Linked DNA regions of Homo sapiens. The protein of the gene in region 1 interacts with the protein of each later gene in a pairwise test. Each region holds a gene or a part of one and is shown in the gene's direction. Other genes may lie near its edges. The genes, in order: CXorf38, NFYC and CDHR3.

Region 1 (7,713 bases):
TCTAATGCTACAGTGTTTCTAAACAGAAACTCTAGACATATCTTCCTAAATACAAACCTAACTGGGACTTGCTTGAAGTTTCCTCCTGAGAAAAAAAATCCAAACCAAATATAATCTGATACTTAACACCACAGCTTAATCCCCAATAATCTGGGCAGTTAAAATTGTCTTTTATTTTGATCTTTAAAGTTCTCACTAATTTTAGATTTAATTACCCCTTCCCTTACCGGTGTGTTAACATCTTTCCTGTGTTGTGAATAGCTAATGACCATTTTTCTCTGTTGCAGGTGAATGCACAATATTTGCAGCTGTTCGTGATTTAATGGCTAATCTTACACTGCCCCCTGGTGGGCGTCCATAGACACTATTGTTTTTAAACCAGGAAGGCTGACAGATGAGACAACAAAAAAAATCTGAATTCAGCCTTCAGTTTAAAAAAGGAAAAGGACTTTTTTTTTAAACTTTAAGAGCTAAATATTCTAAACTGGCAAAAATTTTCAGGGTGCACTTCTTTCATCAAAATGATCATCCATCTTTTGTATAATGAACTTGTATAGTGTGTTTAAATGGGACACATTTCAAAGGAAATAAATCAGTGTCCGTTTGCCAGTAATAAATTTAATATTCTGTTTTATACTATAAAGTTATGAAAATGCCAAACTTGTTTATTTAATTGTTTTCTTATGTTTTGGGTGTAATAGTCCTTTTTTGGTTTTTGTTTTGTTTTTTAAGGCAGGTCTGTCATTTTTGAATACTGTAAAACTGTGATAAACTTTATATTGAAGCTGTATTTTAATATGACCGCTTTGAATCCTTACATGAAATGTTCTGGGAGTTGTTATAAACACACCCCAAGGAAGCAATATTTAATAAAACTAGGTCAAAAACAAAACAAAACAGTGACACTCACTTGTGTGTATATAAACTCTAGAGACATCTTAGGCCCTCCCTTCATCTTTAACCTGGTGGATGGAGCCAGTTATTAATTTATAATAATACATGTCTGAAATTTGACCAAAAACATCTTCTTTATGTCAAGGTTAATATATTTTCTTCAGACATTCCTAACTTGACTAGTGGTTAACATTTAGCACCTTGGTTGTCTTTCAATATATAGGATTTGGGTGAAAAATAAGGAACTTAGTCTTTGAGAAGGGACAGTATGTGGTTCGTATTGATCAAGGATCCCAAATAATGCAATCATTCTCATCTGTTGAGGATGTGGGAACTTTTCTGTCAGGAAAATTTAGTTTACAGAATACTTCTGCATACAACATTAATTAGGAAACAAAGAACTTTAATGCTGTACCTCTGCATGAAGTTTCTGTGAGCTTTCTTTATCTTGCTTAACTTATCCTCCTTTCCTTCCCCACCAAAATTGGGATTGTTCTAAACAATTTCAATTTAATTCATTGTCAACAAAACGATAGAATGTTTTGCTTGGAAGAAACCTGGTCCATTCCCCTCATTGTGAAGAATCCCGAATCCTGGGCCTGTCCAGGGTCAAATGGAGTTTTTGGTATTAATACATCTCTGCAGGGTTTCTTTTTGGAGCACTGTGCTGTCTTTCCTAGTCAGTCAGGGACTTTTTTAAGCTTCAAAGAACATGGTCTGATGCAAAGGTCTTCTACCGACTTCATGGTATTTAGGAAAAATTTTTAAGTGATAATACCATGCCGAGTTACCTGGTCACTGTAATACTGGTTCTCCATTAAAATGTAGATGCTTTGTCTAATTCCACTTCAAGATGATTTAATTGAGCTTCTATAACTATCAACTATCAAATTCTAGTTTCAAGTATCTCACTGTACCTATATCATATCTGTTCTCAACTTTGTTTGATTCTCCACTCATTTTCAATCAGAGTTGAAGCCTTCTTTGCCTTTCTTCTTTGTCTTATTTCTGCCTTCATCTCCCACTTCTCACCCAACTCTGCCACTGTTCAGGAGCAGTTGACTAAACTTTTATCCTTCCTTTAACTTAATCTTTTTATCCTTCTGTTTTTAGTTCTTACAGTGGTAATCACATCAGTTTGGCAATCTAAGATGTCTTTATCAAGGGTCAGCCCTTTTCTATTTGGAGCTGAATCTTTTCTTTCATGTAGAAATCTACATGTATATACAAGAAATGTATTTTTATCTGCAGGATAATATTGTTTCAAATAATTTTATTAAGAGTTAACTTTTTAGGTATTTTCCCTTTTAATGTGGTTTTGAAATGTTAATTGCATTTTTACACATGATGCATTCAGTGGACACTCTTTTTTCCTAATTATAACTCATCTCTGAATGCATTGTGCCAATCAAGAGTAAGATAGGATTCAGTGCGCAAAATTTGCTTTTGATGCTTATTAAGAGTAAACCCATGAATTTGAATTTTTATATTATGCTTGGTACTTGGAATTGATATATACCTTATTAAAGCTTGAAAACATTTAGCATTTGAATAGTAAGTTTCATCACAAATCATGTCTTTTGCCTCTTTTGTTACCCAGGTTCGATCAAGGGGACTGGATGCCCAAGTGATTTTCTCTAATAATCGGGTTGGGACTTAACTTTAAGGTGTTTTCAATGTGATTTTAGTATTTACAGTAATAAATAAAATTTATACAAAGTTTCAGAGAACTACCAACTCTCTAGTTAATTTTGATGAAGATGTTTTCATTAATAGTCTGGTTTAGTATTAATTTAACCTTGAAATAAGAAATTGGTCCTGATTTGCCACCTTCATTTTTCCATCTGCTGAAATGCCATTTCAGAATGTATAAAAGTACTTTCAGAATTAGAAGAAAAGTGAGAGCTTCAGCAGAACGTGTCAAGTCGCTAATAACAGGAGTCGAACCTTATGTTTGAAAATTAACTGAGTGAGTTAAGTGCAAGCATAAACTAAAATTTATATGACTTTGAATTTAAGAACCACTAATAACTGTGTTCTAATTAACACAGTAATCTGTTCAGCCAAAGGATACTAACAGCCATTCTTTGGACTGTGGTTAATTTGATAACTTCAAGAAGTTATAACTTTGCTACCCTGGATTCTGATGCAATTTCAATATAAAAAGTTGTTCCTTTCATAGTTTTTCCCCCCAAAAGAAGTGCCTATTACATTTTACCTTAATGTTTATTTATCATCCAAGTGTTCTTGATATAAAATCAGTATACAGAAAATTTTAAGAGAACTTACATTCAAGGGACATAGAGGGAAAATGTTAATGTGTATTTCATTGTTTCTTGTGGAATTTTTTTTTCATTCGGTTTGAGAATGGACAGTGTGTCTAAGGATGTGATTTAAATTTACTTAGGATGGATTTAGCATTGAGGTTATTAAGACAAAGTTAGCAGAGGCCAGCCAGCACTGTGCTGCACAACTCCAGGAACTCCATGGTATGCTCACAATTTTCTGCAAGTTGCCTCCACTTCCAAGTGGCCAGTGATTTGTTAAAATACCTTGCCCAAGAATATAACTGATTGATGAAAGGGCATATTTAGGTCAATATAAAATAATAGCAAGTATTTACTGAGAGCTTACTGTGTGCTAGGCATTTTCTTAATATTTCAATGTGTATTTAATCCTCACAACAACCCAATGTGGTAGGTTATTGATATCCTCTTCTTAAAAATGAGTAAATGGAGGCCCAGAGAAATGTAATTTGCCTGAGATCAAATTAAGGTTGCTTAAGATCAAACTGCTAAGAAGGGGCAGTTTGAGTCTGAGCTAGTGCTCCTAAACACTGGACATTTTTGCTGTGAACCACAGTCGGGAAGGTTTAATGTTTAGACTCTTTCCTCAGAGGCTTTTAACTACACACAATTTTGACATGTTTTCCAAGCTCAGAAAGCTCATTAAAAACAACTAAAACTGACCTGACTTGTCACTTGGAGTTGACAATCCCAGTGCCTTCTGACCTTTGTGGCACTTCTTTGGAACTTAAATCAGACTTCCATGTGCAAGGAGCACTAATTATCATATAATCAAGAATACTAGATAATTATCGTCTAACCTTTGCTAGGTGCTTCAGGATGCCCTTATCTGGCTCAGGTGTGCAGCCTTCTAGAATCCAAGTGATGTGTTGCCCTAAACAGGCAAACGCCCCCTTCTGGGTGGTCCAGTGGCGGGGGATTTTGAGTTTTGGGTTAGCTTGGCACACCGCAGGCAGCCAGCGGTCACGTTTCACTAATACCTCAATTTGCTACAGCTGGTCTGTGGGCTTAGGAACCAGTAACTCTAGAATTGTATAATGCAAAGAACATACACGATTCAAGCAATGTGCCCTGAGCACCTTGTACATCTGGACAATAAAAAAAAGTTAAAACAGAAGTGCCCTACATTAGGAGAGGGAGTCGAATCGGATGCTGACAGGGTCTCTGTTTGGGGGACGAAGAGGGCCTAAGGGTTTCAAATAGTTAACTGCTTCCCCAAGCACCAAAGTTGTTAGACGTCAGACGTCAGACGTCACCCAAGTGGGGTGGAGCCGACGTGCCCCGGAAGTCAAGATGCCCCGCCCCGGGATCGGTGGCACCGCGCCGCGCAGGCGCAGGCGTCGCTGCCGCCGGCGCAGGCGCCGCTGCCTCGGGTACTTCCCAGGCTCCGCGCCTGCGCACTGCCGTCCGCCACGCCCCGCAACCTCCTGGTTCCAAGTGGGAGACATGGTGCTGTCGGAGCTAGCGGCGCGCCTCAACTGCGCCGAGTACAAGAACTGGGTGAAGGCGGGCCACTGCCTGTTACTGCTGCGCAGCTGCCTGCAGGGTTTCGTCGGCCGCGAGGTGCTCTCCTTCCACCGCGGCCTACTCGCCGCAGCCCCCGGCCTGGGGCCCCGCGCCGTCTGCCGCGGCGGCTCACGGTGCAGCCCTCGCGCCCGCCAGGTGAGCACCTGGCTCGGGGCCTTGACCACCGCCCCCACCCCACCCCTCCTCATCCCCGTTCCTGTCCCAGACCCAGAGCGCAAGTGTCCTGTTCCCTCCGCGATGCGGGGCCCACCGCGACGTCCCTCCCTCCTGGGCCCCTCCTCACCGCCGCCCCCTGTAGTTTCAGCCTCAGTGTCAGGTGTGCGCTGAATGGAAAAGGGAGATTTTGAGACATCATGTCAACAGAAATGGAGATGTGCACTGGGGAAACTGCCGGCCGGGCCGCTGGCCCGTGGACGCCTGGGAGGTGGCCAAGGTAAGCGCCTGAGGCGGGGACGGAAGGAGGAAGCGGCGGGTCACCCAGCACTCGGGGTGGCTATCTGGTCTTGTGGTCGCCGGGGCCTCATAAACAGATGCAGAGAGAGAGATTGATCAAGGGTCTAGGCGGTTCAGGGGTGGTATGCGGGACCCAACCCAGCTTAGTGAAGTAGAAGCTTTCTTCTACCCGTCTGCTTCCTGAGGGCATTTGAGTTTGTTACCCCTGCTTGGAAAGTTACAGGAAAGAGTTCTACAAGAGATACTGGGGCAAGATGCAGAGCGAGCATCATGAGCACAGGCAGGGAGGGAGGGAGACTCTTGTGTGGCCTGTTTGAGGGTAAGGCTCGCTGAACAGCTCATCAGCTCTTTTTTGGCTATAGGATGCCGTAAGGATGACAGAGTAAGCCAAGGGAAGTTAGGGCTAAAATAGCACCTTAAGTGCCCAGTTAAAGGCACTTTGGGTAGCTGGGAATGGGGTAGGCAGCCGGATCTGTCTTCAGATCTTGGCAATGTCACTTACTAAGTAGATCGAGTAGGAAATTTTTTTGCCCAGTAAGGGACGGAGAGGGACAGCCAGAAGTGGCTTCCTAACACAAATTGACTTTAGCAGTCAGTCTACATGCCAGTAGTTATCAGCAGGCACAGGGTGGGCACTGGAAAGGAGCAGTGCCTGGGAAGCAGATGATCTGAGTCCTGGATCAGCTGCCGTGGTGTGACACTGGGCCAGCTTGTGCTCCCCAATCTCAAAAATGAAAGGACGGCCGGGCGCAGTGGCTCACGCCTGTAATCCCAGCACTTTGGGAGGCCGAGGCGGGCGGATCATGAGGTCAGGAGATCGAGACCACGGTGAAACCCCGTCTCTACTAAAAATACAAAAAAATTAGCCGGGCGCAGTGGCGGGCGCCTGTAGTCCCAGCTACTCGGGAGGCTGAGGCAGGAGAATGGCGTGAACCCGGGAGGCGGAGCTTGCAGTGAGCGGAGATCGCGCCACTGCACTCCCGCCTGGGCGACAGAACGAGACTCCGTCTCAAAAAAAAAAAAAAAAAAAAAAAAAAAAAAAAAAAAAAAAAAAAATGAAAGGAATTGGGGCCGGGCGCGGTGGCTCATGCCTGTAATCCCAGCACTTTGGGAGGCCAAGGTGGGAGGATGGCTTGAGCTCAGGAGTTCAAGACCACCCTGGATAACATGGCAAAACCCCGTCTCTACAAAAAAATACAAAAATTAGCTGGGTGTGGTGGTGCATGCCTGTAGTCCCAGCTACTCAGGAGGCTGAGGTGAGAGGATCACTGGAGCCTGGGAAGTCGAGGCTGCAGTGAGCCGTGATCACACCACTGCATTCCAGCCTGGGTGACAGAGCAAGACCCTGTCTTAAAAAATTGAACTGTATCAGGGGTCCCCAGACTTTTGGGTATCACGAGCCGGTAAACCCACCACACCTACACCATCTTCCCCATTTTTTTCCACTGCAGCCATAGAGTTGCTGACTTCTACTTCTACCTAGAAAAGAGAAAAAAAACAGAAAGAAAGAAAACTCTGCCCTTTACAATGCCTGTCCCTCATCTGTTTGGTCTGCGTTGCTGCTTTCACACCATTGGAATCCTCTTGTAGCCTGTACTACCTCCTTATACCACTCTTTGCTCCTCTTGGTTGCTGTCACCTACAGACCTTCTAGTCCAACCCCATCCTCTCAGTTTCTGGGCTCCTGATTCCAGCATCCTCTGCTTCACTCCCCCTCAGCCTCCGGCTTGCATGCCCACACCCTGGACCTTGGCACAGAAAGTCTCAGTGTCTAACATCCTGCTGGCCTTTGGCACACTTATTCATGCACCCCTGCCCCCAACCCTGTGCCCCATACTACTTCCGCCTCTTTGAGGCTTCCACTGCTTCCTGAATACCCAGCACCCTCTGTCCTCCTGCCTGCCTTTGTCACCTCAGCTAGCCCAGATTCCATGGCCCATCATTATAATCCGTCCCTTGCTGTTATCTCAGCTTTTTTTTTCTCCTTTCTCTGAACTTGCCTGGCCCAACTCCAGTCCTGATGACATTTTCTGCTTCTGATTAGTGGGAAAGAATCTCACAAGGGAACTGACTGGTTTCACTTTCATTCTTGATCATGAGCCCCAGCGGTCTGGCCACATCTCTCTCTAGGCTTCAGTTTCTGGAGACTACTACTTTTCCCTGGCAAATCCCTGCTCCCGTTCCTCCGCCCTTGCTCATGCTTCACGGAATTGATGGAGGCCCTTGGACATACATAGTTGTCTCTCCTTATCCATGGGGTATTGCTTCCAAGACCCCCAAGGATACCAAAATCCACAGATGCTCAAGTCCCTGATATAAAATGATGTATGTGGTATTTGCATATTACTTACATACATTCTCCTATGTACTTTAAATCATCTCTAGATTACTTATAATACTTGATAGAATGTAAGTGCTATGTAAATAGTCGTTATGCTATATTTTTAAAAAATTTCGATTACTTTTTACTGTTGTATTATTTTTCTGAGAATTTTTCATCCACAGTTGGTTGATTCTATGAATGCGGAACTCG
Region 2 (7,108 bases), on another chromosome or scaffold:
CCCCTTGAAGTGGTGGGGCTAAAACGAGAAGAGTGCTGCCTATTTGGGAGATTGGGACCAGGCCTGAGAGGCATGATGTTTGGGTAGCATCTTCCCAACACTTGCAATTAGCACTGTTCTCAGATCACAGGCCTTGACAGCATTTACTGACAAGCACTGCTGGTGTGTGGTTTTTAGTTACGGTACTTATTTGCCCGTTTGCAACTTATCATGCAATGGGTGATTATTTCGTACTTCAGAAATTGGCTGTATGTTTTGTGAAGCCTATAGGATCTGTTATTTTTAGTTTGATTTAGCATAACTGGTCTCTTTGAATTCCACTTTCCTTTGGCTTCAAATGTGGAGAGCTCAGCATTCAGCAGGCAACTGCACATAGCCTGTTTGGGGGAAGAGTGGAAATTCACTGTGGCGGCTGCTGAGTTGGTTCTTTTCCTCTTACCTGCCTCTCTTTCCACCCAACAGGAGGAGGTGCGCCAGTCTGTAACTCCTGCCGAGCCAGTCCAGTACTATTTCACGCTGGCTCAGCAACCCACCGCTGTCCAAGTCCAGGGCCAGCAGCAAGGCCAGCAGACCACCAGCTCCACGACCACCATCCAGCCTGGGCAGATCATCATCGCACAGCCTCAGCAGGGCCAGGTCTGTGAGCTGCTGAGGATGCCCATCCAGCAAGACAGTGCCCCTTAGGTTTTTGGATGGGCAGAGCTTGATGAGGGCAGAGAGGCAGCCAGATCATTATAGAGCACTGGATTTAAAGTCTGGAAACTGGAACTTTTCCCCAGATTCAGCTACTGGGGTGAGATGTTACCCTAATCTCTCTGGACCCTGTTTTTCTCAAAGGTCAAATGAGGAAAGTGTACTAGACAGTATGTTCTCCAGGATCCCTATTAGCTCAGAAATTTTAGAAGGGAAAAAAAAATGTCTGAAATGCCTTATGAAGAGTAGAGGTGCTAAAGTGAACTCCATGCCTGCTGTCTGTGTGTCTGTGTGAGAAGTGGAATTTGTGCCCTTAAAGGGAGAGATTAGGTATCATTGCCAAGTTGCATACTCCTTCTCCCCGTCATTTCTCTGTCCCATATTTGTGTTAAGTGACCTTCTCTTTTTACGATAGTAATCAGAGGACTCTTTCTCTCCCCAGTAGTAGTGTTAAGAGCAGTAGCATTCATGTTTGTTGGGGGTCATGTGAGGCTGCAGAGAACTCTGTACTATGAGCTCTGAATCCAAATTCTCTGTCAATCATTATTTATTCATCAAACACTGAGCATCCTCTGAGGGTAAAGTTCTGTGCTATGTATTGGGGATACAAGCATGAATAAAACAGTCCTTATTTTCAAGGAATTCACAATTTAGTTGGGGATACAAATACTTAAAGGTTGTACCACCACGTGGGAATGTGTACAGGGTGTTAAAGGAACACATTAAAAGAAGTACCTTGGCTCAGCGCAGTGGCTCATGCCTGTAATCCCAACACTTTGGGAGGCCAATGTGGGAGGAACCCAGGAGTTTGAGGTTACAGTGAGGTAGGATCATGCCACTGCACTTCAGCCTGGGCAGCACAGCAAGACCTCTTCTTTAATTAAAAAAAAAAAAAAAAGGCAGGGGCATGTGGTGGCTCATGTCTGTAATTCCAGCACTTTGGGAGGCCGAGGCAGGAGGATTGCTTGAGCCCACGTGTTCAAGACCAGCCTGGGCAACATGGTGAGACCTTGTCTCCACCAGAACATCAGAACATTAGCCAGCCATGGTGGCATGCTCTTATGGCCCCAGCTACTTAAGAGGCTGAGTTGGGAGGATCGCTTGAGCCAAGGAGGTCAAGGCTACAGTGAGCTGTGATTGTGCCATTGCACTCCAGCCAGGGTGACAGAGCAAGATCCTGTCTCAAAAAAAAAACAAAAAAAAGTATATGTGTGTGTGTGTGTGTATGTGTGTGTGTATTATATATGTGTGTATATATATGTATATGTGTGTGTATGTATGTAGGGGAGGGGATGAGTAGCTGAGAAAGATGTGAACGAGGTGGTCAGATAATGTTTCTGAAGGGAATAATATGAGTCTTGGGGAACAGTGGAAATTAATCAAAGAAAGTGGGAAAGGGTGGTATTGCCAGTAGAGGGCACAGCACAGGCAAAGGCTCAGAGGTGAGAAACAGTACAGGGGGCCGTAGGAAAGTAGTCAGCGTAGGGGACCATCTACGCAAGTTTGGAAAGATAGATAGTAAACACATCCTGGACAGCCTCGTATATTCTAATAAGGAGCTGAGTTTGCCTAGAAGAAAAAAAAATGGAGTAGAGGTAGATTGATTGATTGATGTTTTTTTAAAGATAAGTTCTCACTTCGTCACTCAGGCTGGAGTGTAGTAGCACAATCATAGCTTACTGCAGCTTCAAACTACTGGGCTCAAGCAGTCCTTCTGCCTCAGCCTCCCGAGGAGCTGGGACTCCCAGGCATGTGCCACCACACCTGGATAATTTTTAATTTTTTTGTGGAGATGGGGTCTCATTATGTTTCCCAGGCTGGTCTCAAACTCCTGGCTTTATGCCATCCTCCCACCTTGGCCTCCCACAGTGGTGGGATGACAGGCATGAGCCACCATGCCCAGTTAGGAGGTAGATTTAAGTAATTATGATTTGGCCAGGTGCGGTGGCTCACACCTATAATCCCATCACTTTGGGAGGCCAAAGCAGGAGGGTCGCATGGGCCCGGGAGTTGGAGACCAGCCTGGGCAATATGGCAAGACCTTGTCTCAAAAACAAACACACAGAGAATTAAAAATAAGTAATTATGGCTGGGCGTAGTGGCTCACACCTGTAATCCCAGTACTTTGGGAGGCCGAGGTGGGCGGATCACAAAGCCAGGAGTTCAAGACCAGCCTGGCCAATATGGTGAAACCCCATCTCTACTAAAAATACAAAAATTAGCCGGGCGTGGTGGCGGGCGCCTATAGTCCCAGCTACCCGGGGAGGCTGAGGCAGGAGAATCTCTTGAACCTGGGAGGCGGATGTTGCAGTAAGCTGAGATCGTGCCACTGCACTCCAATCTGGGTGACAGAGCGAGACTGTCTCAAAAAAAAAAAAAGGTAATTATGATTTTAGGATTTATTCTCTGCTCATTTTACTTATCCATATAACAAAAATGTATTGAGTGCTTGTTCTATGCCAGACACTGTGCTAGGCAGGAGGGTTCAAAGATAATGGCTGCTCAGTCACTGGCTCAAGGCCTCGACTGTATCATGATGCCTAAGGGACCTTCTTTGGCTAATGCTTGTGCCTCTGCAGTGGTGAAAACTTTACCTGCCAAAGGCTTTATCCCTTTACAGAATGAACTTAGAGGGAGTCTGCCAAGGGCAGGCTCTGATTGGCTGATCATCCTAAGAAGCTCATGGCTGTTGTGCCCTGACAGCAGGGCACACCATACATGATTTGACAGCTGCCATGCTAACACAAGCCCTCATTTTCCTGAAATGATTTAGAAATACCTTGGAAATCCTCTCGGGAAAATTGGGTTGATACAGTACAGTGATGAGTTGGCAGCATGCATTTCTTTTTAGTCAGCGAGAATTTCATCTGTGCTCCTCTCTGCCAACCCAGACGTGCTCAGCTTGGAGCTGATAAGGCTTGTGAGGATGGTGAAGTTGGTCCTTCCCAGCATTTCCTGGCTGTTGTTTCACCATCCTGCTGCTTCAGGGTGGCCTTGTGCTGTGTCACACCTCCCTGGACCCGTAGTGATGGCTATTTCAAGTTGAGTGCAAATATCCTTCGTAGGACAGAATACATATGTATTAAAGCAGAGTTGGAAAGAATGCATATTTTGGTAAAATTAATCCTGTGTTTTCTGTCATAAATTGAAAACTTATTTCTGGAGGTTGGGAATAGGCTGAGTTGAAAATTGTGGTACAAGAATGGAAGAAATGTTTTCTGTTAGCCTAGCCCACTGCATGTACTTTTAGAACACTCTGTCGTCTTTCTTTTTGGCCCTCCTCCAGTTTATAGTAATTTCTCCGTAGTAATCCCTTGAATCTCATCTGTCGTTCCCAGAACACATCCCCTTCCCTTGTAACTTTGGATGCATAGTTGTAATTTTCAGTAACCTATGCAGTCAGAATTAAGAACATCAGAATAGCAACATCGGTTGAAGTTTATGATTCATTGAGAGTTCCATAGTCTTCTTATTGAGGTGATTAATTCAAAGTGAGGAGAGATAGTGATGGAATTCAAGTCAGGGATTGGGTGTACAGGTGTAGTTTAAAAGGCTCCACCCACGCCCACACCCCCGCCACCCCCCATCACTACCACCACCAGATGAGCCCAGATAGGCTCACTGCTCTAGGTAACCTGTAAAAGTCACAAACAGTACTAAAGGTTTGAGATTTGAAAGAATAATTGACCCTTTTGGCAGCTTGTGTCTTTACCGTCTCAAAAGAGTACATTTCATAGGACTACAACCATTGTGTGTGAGAGACAGAATCTGCCAAGTCATACACATTGGGCAGAAATTTCTTAAATCTGAGATTGCTATTTTTAGAAAGTTAGAGTTCTTGCTTTCTTAAATTCTATTAATTAGGGGTAGACTTAGTTAAGAGTCTGTGTCTTAACAGTGCCCAGTGAGTTAGCAGTGTTTGCTCTCCTTTGGGAAGCCATACTGTGGTCCAGAGCAGCCATCTGGCCAGTGTGGGCAGGAATTGCTCTGCAGCTTGAATGGGGTGAGAGCCAGCGTGCACTAGGGCCCGCCTTGGAGATGCACCCCTGTGCTTTATTTTTCTCTCAGTGTCTTACATGCCTAAGAAAGAGCACATGACCCTGAACTAAATAAATTCATACTGACCCTTTCCATTTAATGTTCCCCTCCAAATTCACCTGCCCCAGACTTGACTTTGGCTATTTCTGAAGTAAACGGTCATGGTTGCTTTTGATTTTTTCTGTAGTGTATGTGCCTTATCACTAAAGGGGCTGTGAAAAGTTGCAGCATTTGGGGCACAGAGATTTATGTTTGGGACCCATGCAAATATTTGTACTGTGAGCCTAAAAATATTTTTGGTTTTTCTTTCGTTTTGGAGAGTAACTTCAGCAATGCTGTAAACCCAGAGGACTCTGTAGGTTATTACTAGTACTGAGATGACCTTAGGCATTCATGGAGAGGGTTTGCTCCCAGCACATTGCTCGTTATTAACCTCTCGGTAATCCTGTGGGCTCTGAGCCTGAACTCACGCAGCATTCTCATAACTCTTCCTTTCAGACCACACCTGTGACAATGCAGGTTGGAGAAGGTCAGCAGGTGCAGATTGTCCAGGCTCAGCCACAGGGTCAAGCCCAACAGGCCCAGAGTGGCACTGGACAGACCATGCAGGTGATGCAGCAGATCATCACTAACACAGGAGAGATCCAGCAGATCCCGGTGAGTCCTGCCCTGAGGTCTGTCTTTACAACTTTATAGAAGGAAATACTTAAAGATATATATACCTTGATATATATATGTATATCTCTATATATACCTTGATATGTATATCTATAGCTATATATATACCTTGATATATATATCTATAGCTATATATATACCTTGATATATATATGTATGTCTCTATATATACCTTGATATGTATATCTATAGCTATATATATACCTTGATATATATATCTGTAGCTATATATATACCTTGATATATATATAGAGATATATATCACACGCATGCATAATCCTTTTTTTCTTTTTAGGAGACAGGTCTTGCTGTGTCACTCAGACTGATGAAGTGCAGTGGCTTGATCTCAGCTCACTGCAGCTTCCGCCTCCCAGGTTCAAGCGATTCTCCTGCCTCAGCCTCCCGAGTAGCTGGGATTATAGGCACGTGCCACTATGCCCGGCTGATTTTTGTATTTTTAGTAGAGATGGGGTTTCACAGTGTTGGCCAGGCTGGTCTCTAACTCCTAACCTCAGGTGATCCGCCCGCCTCGGCCTCCCAAAGTGCTGGGATTACAGGCATGAGCCATCACGCCCAGCCCTCAGTACTTATTTATATATATGCGTGTGTGTGTTTGTTTTGTTTTTAACCTATATGCCCAGTGTTCCTGACCACAACTTGCTTCACTGTGTTTGTTCCCTGCTTTCCTTTAATCTAGGTTCAGGTTCACCACGATTGGGCGGCTTCTCTCGATTTCCCCTCATTCTACCTATGCAGGGAAATCATTGTAACCACTACCCATGCCAAGGCCCAAAGGCCCTGTGAGGCAGTCCTGTATTTGATTAGCAGAGGATAAGAGGGAGGCGTATAGGGAAGGCCATAAATACACTTGTTGCATATTCATGAGTCAGTTCCCAGTGGAGCCTGCAGCAAAGTGTATTTTTGGCTTTCATATAACTTATCTATTCCTTTACTGTGGACTGCTGCTTCCTGTGTGCCTTGAGGGATTTCATTTCTTAGATTTGTTGGCTTTTTTATTTGTACTCCTTTTGTAAAATGTGTCCTTGTCTTAACACTTGCAGTCTTTACATTGGTCATTTTGACCCCCCAAAACTGGAAAGTGAGTGAAACAGAGCAGTCCTTCTATTCCCTGCCCTTTGCCATTTTTGTCATAAATGAAACGTAGGCAGGTATAGAAACTCACGTAGACTTGGTTAACCACTTCCTCTGTGAAAATAACTCTAAAAGTATCCTGAGATCAGTTTAGGAATTGTTCTTCATCTGAAGTTAACATAGTAATAGGCCAAGAGAAAGCTTAGGAAAGTGGAGTGTGTATGTCTCTTTCTCTACCTCTCTCACGTGTGCTTACGATACCCAGGATTGCAGATGACTGAGCTCTGCCTTGCTTCATTGTTTCAGTCCTCAACCCCAAGATTTCTGTTGAATGGTTCTCATTTTTGCAAGCGAAGGCACCACCACAGGTTCATTTAAGACAGAGAAGAGTTCCACCTTGCAGATACTTTAACTCTCTGGGGCACAGAGCTTTAGCCCAGAAGATTTGTTGCAGAATTCACTACTTCATCTTCACTGGCTCAGGCACCTTCTGTAGGAGTCTTCATTTCCAGACTCTTTAGGCAGCTCATTGGAATGTTCCTAATAGTGATGAGCTTCAGGAAGGAAACTTTATTTCCCTTTCAAAAACCCAGAGCTTATTTTCTCT
Region 3 (7,108 bases), on another chromosome or scaffold:
TAGGTAACGTCAACAATCATTTCACCTTCTCTCCCAATGCTGGTTCCAATGTCACACGCCTGCTGCTTACATCTCGCTTTGACTATGCTGGTGGGTTTGATAAGATCTGGGACTACAAGCTACTTGTCTACGTAACTGATGACAACTTGATGTCTGACAGGAAGAAAGCGGAGGCTCTTGTTGAGACAGGAACAGTGACACTGAGTATTAAAGTCATTCCCCACCCAACCACTATCATCACCACGACCCCCAGGGTAAGGGCTTTAGGACCTGGAATCCCCAGGCACATTCCCTTGTGAGTTATGTTGATGGACTTCTTTCCCCGGCCTGGAGGTATGTGGGGTGGACTGAAGAGTTGAGGTATTAGGATGTTGCCAAAAATGGCAACCATGGGCTGGACTGGAGTAGCTGCAGGGTGGCAAAAATCTGGTGAGACCTCAGACTCATAACCGCTAACTCAACCACTAACATTTCCTGTTCTGGTAGAGAAGAGTGTGTTGTTTGTGCAGAGACTTGTGAGAGATCAGACCTCAACCATCTGTGTGGCTTGTGGCACAGGAGCTGATTTCCATGGGCATGCTGCCAGTTGCTACCTTCACAACCCCTCTCTGCTTGTTCAGAAGAGTCTTTGCAAGTCAATATCCATGAAATTAGGTTGCTTGCTTACTGCTGGGTGCTCTTTCCCACATCTTTTGAAGAATCACCAGGTACCAATCTGTACCCTACACCCCACCTCCGCTCCAAAAAAATTCATCCAATCTACAAATATCGATTTAATGCCTATAGTGTGCCAGTCACTTTAGCAAACAAGCCAAAAATGATCCCTGCTCTCAGAAAGCTTATTGTATAGGCGAGTGATTCTCTAAGTGCGGTCCCTAGACCATCAGAATCAGCACCACCTGGAAACTGGTTGGAAATGCAAATTCTCAGGCCCAGCCTAGATTATTAAAGTTATAGGTTACCCAACCATGATCATCACCATGACCTCCAGGGAAGGATGCTGGAACCTGGAATCCCCAACTCTATCCCCTAACCTAATGAATCCGAAGCTCTGGAGGTGGGGTCCAGTGAGCTGTGTTTTCAATCAGCCTTTCAGGGAATTCTAATGTGCATTAAAGTCTGAGAGCCACTGATCTAGAGGGGGAGATAGATTACAAACAAGTATTCAAATTGACAAAGTAAATACAGACTGTGGGAAAGGGTAGGAAGAAAATGACCAGGTGCTATCACAGAATTGGCCTGGAGAAGGAAGGGAGAGCCTTGAATCTGACAACAGGATTATCTTCCCTGCCCCTTGGAGGAACTGGCTTGCATCTATGCTGACTCATCTGTCCCCTTTCTTCCTCCTCCTCTTCCTCCTCCTCCTCCTCCTCCTAGTAGAAGCTGCACCCCTGGTCAGCAGCCTGATACCTGCAGCATGCCAGAAGGAAGATAATCAGAACCTTAGAGAACCCACTATGGAGGTGGCCAGCTTCTTCTCAGAGTCTTGCCAGGAGCTGGTTCATGCTTCTCTCTCCCATGCTCGAGTCAATATGACCCCAGTGAATGGAGGCATATGGCAACCCTAGGACTTTCCTTGTGGGAGGAGCTGGTAGGCTCTCCTGAGTGAGGAGTTCCCACCTTTCTTGGGCTCAGAGCATGACCTGATTGTGACATCTCCAATCCTGAAACCTCCGTAACTTGTTTGTTATCTGTCTCCAGCTCTAGGAAGCAGATGCTGAACTTGAGGCTTTGCTGTGATATCAGCCCACTGCTCTGGCAGTGGCAGCTTGTAGTTGAGAAAACACTGAAAAGCCTACAAGGCATTTAAAAAAACAACTTTCGTGGCTTATGCTGTCTCGGTGAGAGACAATGGCTATATTCGTCCCTGGGTTATGCCCAGATATGGCAGAAAAAAAGCCAATGGAGTTTTTTTTAGCTTTGGGGAAGGGGAAGACAGAGAATAAAATAAGGCCTAGAGTTGTTTTTCAGTTCCCTAAAATTTCTGGGTTTTGATCTAATGGATGTCTGCAAAGACTATAAATAAGGTGATGGGTTGAAGCAGCAAGAACTGTGAGCACACAGATGTCCAACTTATAGAGCAATAACAATAACAAAGAGTGGAATAAACACTCAACACGAGAGAGTGCTGAATGTCAAAATCACTACCACCCTCTACTCACCCTCCCTGCTCTCTGTTGTTCAAGCCCAGGGTCACCTATCAGGTCCTGAGGAAAAACGTTTACTCTCCATCTGCATGGTACGTGCCGTTTGTCATCACTTTGGGCTCCATATTGCTTCTGGGTCTCCTCGTGTACCTGGTCGTCCTATTGGCCAAAGCCATCCACAGACACTGCCCCTGCAAGACTGGGAAGAACAAGGAACCTCTGTAAGTTGCCAGTGGGCTGGGCCCTCTTCCCCACCTCCTTTAGGACACTGTTTCTGGTGACATCAGGAGAAGGAAAAATGGAGAATCAGGATTTCTCTACAAGGCAGGTTGCCTGGAGTGAAGGCAGGAAAAGGAGATACGGGGGAAGGAATCCCAGCTCCCCTCGGTCCTGGTGCACTTTCTTTGTCACCTGCTAGGCCAGGAAACCATCCTTTTGGCTTTCCCTGGCAACCTACTCTGTCCTTGAGGCTCTTAATAAGACTGGGGCATCAACCTTCTGATGACCTTGCCCTGGATAAAATCTTCAGCAAAGCCCTGTTGTAAATAGCGATAGAATATGCCGTGCTCTTATTTGTAGAATATTTAAAGGATAGTATGGAATTAAGGCAAGCACACAAAACCAATAAGGGAATTAAGCTTTTGTCTCCAGTGACTCAGCCGGGTTTTTGTGTGACCAAATAATTCTTGGTGTTTTGCTTGTGGTCTCAGTCTCTCACTCTTAAGGGTTGTAAACGCAGGCCTGTTTTCTCTTTTTCCAGTTTTCAGCTGCCCACTAATATGCCTCTTATTGTGCCAATCTGTGATGTGTCTTTTACTGGCTAAAGTGAGGTAGTAGAGTGACGTGAAGAGAGCACCAAAGAATCACAAACTTCTCCCAGAGCCAAGCTCCTTGATTCTCAGTAGCTCTTACAACTTACAGCTTAGATGGTTCTGAGCCTGAGTTTTGGAGTTAGATGGGCCTGAGCTCAAGTCTTAGCTCTACCATTTTCTTGGAATATGGCTTTGAGCAAGTGACCACCTCTGTGAACTTGAATTTTCTTATTTGTAAAATTAATCAACTAAATGAACAAATGTAAACAAGGCACTTAACTGTATTCCTGATATAGAGTAAATGCTTAGTACACTACCCAGCCAGTTTTTACAAATCTTGTTTCATTATTCTTCACAGATGAGTCCCAATGAGTTCAGGATTCTAGATTCCAAGTTTAGCTCTATGCCCAAGTATCTTGAGGTGTTGGAACCTCTGAGTTCTAGGATCTCTCAATGGCAAAAAGAGGGGGTGATAAGACATGTGTGCCTTTTACGGGTATTTTAAATATTAAATATTAACTGTCAAATAAGAAAATCTATGGATGAAAGACTGTATAAAAGTACAAGGCATTAGAATAAAGATGTGCGTTGCATTTTGCCATATTTATTGCGGAAGTTTGTTGCTATTGGCAACCTTGACTTCAAGGTAAGAAATCCTCGAGCATCTGCTGAAATTAAAAAAGGCATTTTTGTTTGAACTCTATTCACAAATTGATTTTTTTAAAAAAAAACAGCTCTAAAAGAGTAATTGCTTGTAAGGATGGTGGTGTACTGTACTGGGATTTGGATAGAAGTTCTTGAAGAAACAAATCCAATAGACACTGCAACTCTCATGTAATTTATGGCTAAACGTTAAATATGCACCTTGAACCTGGTTCTTTTAACTTATGTTGTAAATATTAATTGTTTTCAACATGGTTGACTTAAAAAAGAAAAACTAGCTAGAAAACCAGACTCAGACTCAACCTCTCTGGAAATTAGTTATACCATATGACAGCCAACTTTGTCAAATAGCAAAGAAGAAAATTAGGGTTACAGAGCTATAGAATCCAAGGTGATCATGGGAAATCTCGTAGGGTCTGAGTCCAGCTCTTCATGTGACAGGAAACCAAAATGTAACTGCCAGCTCTCAAACCTCCCTGTTGTGAGCCAAGCCTTCTGCTCTGCTGGCTCTTGGGGAGAAAGGGATAGGGCAAGAAGACTCGCTGGACAGTCTGACTAGGGCAGGCATGTCCTCACCAGGTTTTCTCATCAGAAACAATGTATTCCCTGAAGTTTATAAGGTGATACTTTTCAACTCATCAAATTCCCAGAACCTCCCTAGTCCAAAGCCAATAGTGATGAAGCTGCTTTGTTCGAAGCAGGCGTGGTGATCTAGTTTTCTTTCTGGCCCCTATCCCTGGCACCTCTTTCAGTCAACCCCTGTATCTCAAAGGGCATAGTTGCCCAAAGAACCCCATGGTGTCATGTGTGTGCCAGTGCAGCATACTTTCAAGTGAATTAATAGCCATTCTTTTTCCCCCCATAGGACAAAGAAAGGAGGTATGTACAGTACCTGTTTCCCTTGTCTGTTGTTTTTTGCTTGCTCTGTTGTGCTACGTAAAAAGGTTCCTACTCGGCAAAGAATCAGGCCGCGATCACATCTTGGAGCATTTTCAGCTGCATCTTCTGTGGCTGGAAGGAAGCGGAGGTCGGTTGCAGCTGGAGAATGGGAAGGGTGGGGGGACAGTGCCTTGGCCTGCCTGGATATCTCAATTTGGTCCTGCCTATGCCCTACCTAGAGCCCTCGCCAATCAGCTCAGCTGAACACCTAGGTCTGTCCCTTGCTGCATGGCACAGGAAGAAAGAACTCTCCGTGTGTTAAATGTAGACAGGACCTGCTTACTGCAGCCCATGGAGGGTGTCCTGAGGACAGCTAATGCTTTGTGCTGGACACAGGCCTCTTTTGAAAGAACAGATAAGGCTGGGCGCAGTGACTCACGCCTGTAATCCCAGCACTTTGAGAGGACGAGGTGGGTGGATCACAAGGTCAGGAGTTTGAGACCAGCCTGGCCAGCATGGTGAAACCCCCGTCTCTACTAAAAATACAAAAAATTAGCCGGGCATGGTGGCACGCACCTGTAGTCCCAGCTACTCGGGAGGCTGAGGCAGGAGAATTGCTTGAACCCAGCAGGTGGAGGTTGCTGTCAGCCAAGATCACGCCACTGCACTCCAGACTGGGCGACATAGTGAGACTCTGTCTCAAAAAAAAAAAAAAGAACAGATAATATTTGATTCCCAGATTCTAATGGATTTGATCATTTCCACAAATTATTTAGGTTAGACTAGTGAGAAGGGGGAGATGAGGGTGGTGAGATGGGCTGAGAGCTGACTGACTTCAGAGAAGTGGGTAAATTGGGAAGGTCCATCTGAGCAGCTCCAGGTCTGAGGAGGTGTCCTGGCTTGGCCTCAAGTAGACTCCAGAGTGTGGGGGAGACAGGACAAAGAATTGGACAGTGTTTTAATTAAAAAAAAAAAAAGTTTGCTTTAATCACTCCATCTACAGGCATGTGTCTGACATGCTTAAGGCATGTCTCAACAGGGTTAGAAATTTGATTATAGTGGTTATTGATCATATTGACAGAGATGATTTTAATAAATGAGATTTTCACAAACTGTCTCTAATCCCACTTTTTAAAAAGGGGATGGGGGCTGGGCATGGTGGCTCACACTTATAATCCCAGCACTCTGGGAGGCCAAGGCTAGAGGATCACTTGAGCCCAGAAGTTCGAGACCAGCTTGGGCAAGATAGTGAAACCCTGTCTGTAGAAAAAAAATTTTTAAATTAGCTGGGTGTGGTAGTGTACGCCTGTAGTCTTAGCTACTGGGGAGATAGCTGAGAGGATCACTTGAGCTCAAGAGGTCAAGGCTGCAGCGAGTTGTGACCGCACTCTAGCCTGGACGACAAGAGTGAGACCCTGTCTTAAAATAAAATAAAATAAAATAAAATAAAATAAAATAAAATAAAATAAAATAAAATAAAATAAAAGGGCTTGGGAATTAATGCACAAAACCCACACCTTATGAACAGAGGTATCCAATCCCATCTTTCTTTCTTATCTTAAAAGCCATGTAAAAGCCAGTTTTCTAGGTCCACTGATAATAAGCTAGAAAAAGAATAAAAAACAACTAAATTGTTCGTATGTTATTGTGTGTGTGTGTATACATATGTGTACGTATTTTTTTCTGAGAAGATGGAAAGTTGTCAAGAAACATATCTATAGACAGAACAATTCTTTGCTGTGTCTGCAAGACTGAGATCGAAGCCTATTTAGGGGAAATACCGTTGTGGAGGTGGAATTTTAAGGTCAATTTACCACCCAAGAAGCTTAACTTCTGCCTGTTCTGTTCTCTGCAGAAACGAAGACTGCAGAGAGAGACGTCGTGGTGGTGAGTATGGGCAGTGTGGGGCACCAGGCATAGACGCTGGGGGATAGGGGCTCCCGTCTCCCCCGAAGGCAGGCCTGCCACAGCCTTGTGGGCATGTTTATCATTCAGGGAGGTGCTTGTGTTTGGCTACTGGAACAGATTGCTGTGTGACGAGCTCCTGATAGAATTTGTTCCCTCCACTGAACATGCCTGCTGATATATTTGCAGAAGAACAGGATTTCATAAATATTGAGTAGTGGTGTTTATTATCTATACCAGCTCTCCACGAGAGTGAGTTGAGGGAGTGAAGCTTAAAGACCAAAACTAGTGCTTCAGCCTCCAGTGAGATTTAAATTTTCTTTCTTTCTTTCTTTCTTTCTTTCTTTCTTTCTTTCTTTCTTTCTTTCTTTCTTTCTTTCTTTCTTTCTTTCTTTTTAAGACACAGTTTCACTCTGTTGCTCAGGCTGGAGTGGAGTAGCACAATCTCGGCTCACTGCAACCTCTGCCTCCTAGACTCAAGCGATTCTCATGCCTCGGCCTCCCAAGTAGCTGGGATTACAGACACGTGCCACCACGCCTGGCTAATTTTTTGTATTATTAGTAGAGATGGGGTTTCACCATGTTGGCCAGGCTGGTCTTGAACTCCTGACCTCAAGTGATCCACCCACTGTGGCCTCCCAAAGTGCTGGGATTATAGGCATGAGCCACTGCGCCCAGCTGATTTAAACTTTCTTTGCTCTT

Evidence for each region.
Region 2: the proteins of CXorf38 (region 1) and NFYC interact in binary tests that used the Homo sapiens proteins (3 or more experiments, as listed by UniProt).
Region 3: the proteins of CXorf38 (region 1) and CDHR3 interact in binary tests that used the Homo sapiens proteins (3 or more experiments, as listed by UniProt).

The regions. Positions count from the first base shown.
Region 1 is NC_000023.11:40,644,454-40,652,166, reverse strand, and holds the start of CXorf38 (uncharacterized protein CXorf38), read left to right. Parts: upstream 1-4,605; 5' UTR 4,606-4,646; coding exon 4,647-4,862; exon of another isoform or gene 4,863-5,025; coding exon 5,026-5,160; intron 5,161-7,713. Other genes in the region: MED14 (mediator of RNA polymerase II transcription subunit 14), read left to right, coding at 288-361.
Region 2 is NC_000001.11:40,757,659-40,764,766, forward strand, and holds part of NFYC (nuclear transcription factor Y subunit gamma), read left to right. Parts: intron 1-462; coding exon 463-636; intron 637-5,229; coding exon 5,230-5,388; intron 5,389-7,108. UniProt on the Homo sapiens protein: Component of the sequence-specific heterotrimeric transcription factor (NF-Y) which specifically recognizes a 5'-CCAAT-3' box motif found in the promoters of its target genes.
Region 3 is NC_000007.14:106,022,195-106,029,302, forward strand, and holds part of CDHR3 (cadherin-related family member 3 isoform 1 precursor), read left to right. Parts: intron 1-3; coding exon 4-254; intron 255-2,186; coding exon 2,187-2,368; intron 2,369-4,487; coding exon 4,488-4,501; intron 4,502-6,356; coding exon 6,357-6,388; intron 6,389-7,108. UniProt on the Homo sapiens protein: Cadherins are calcium-dependent cell adhesion proteins.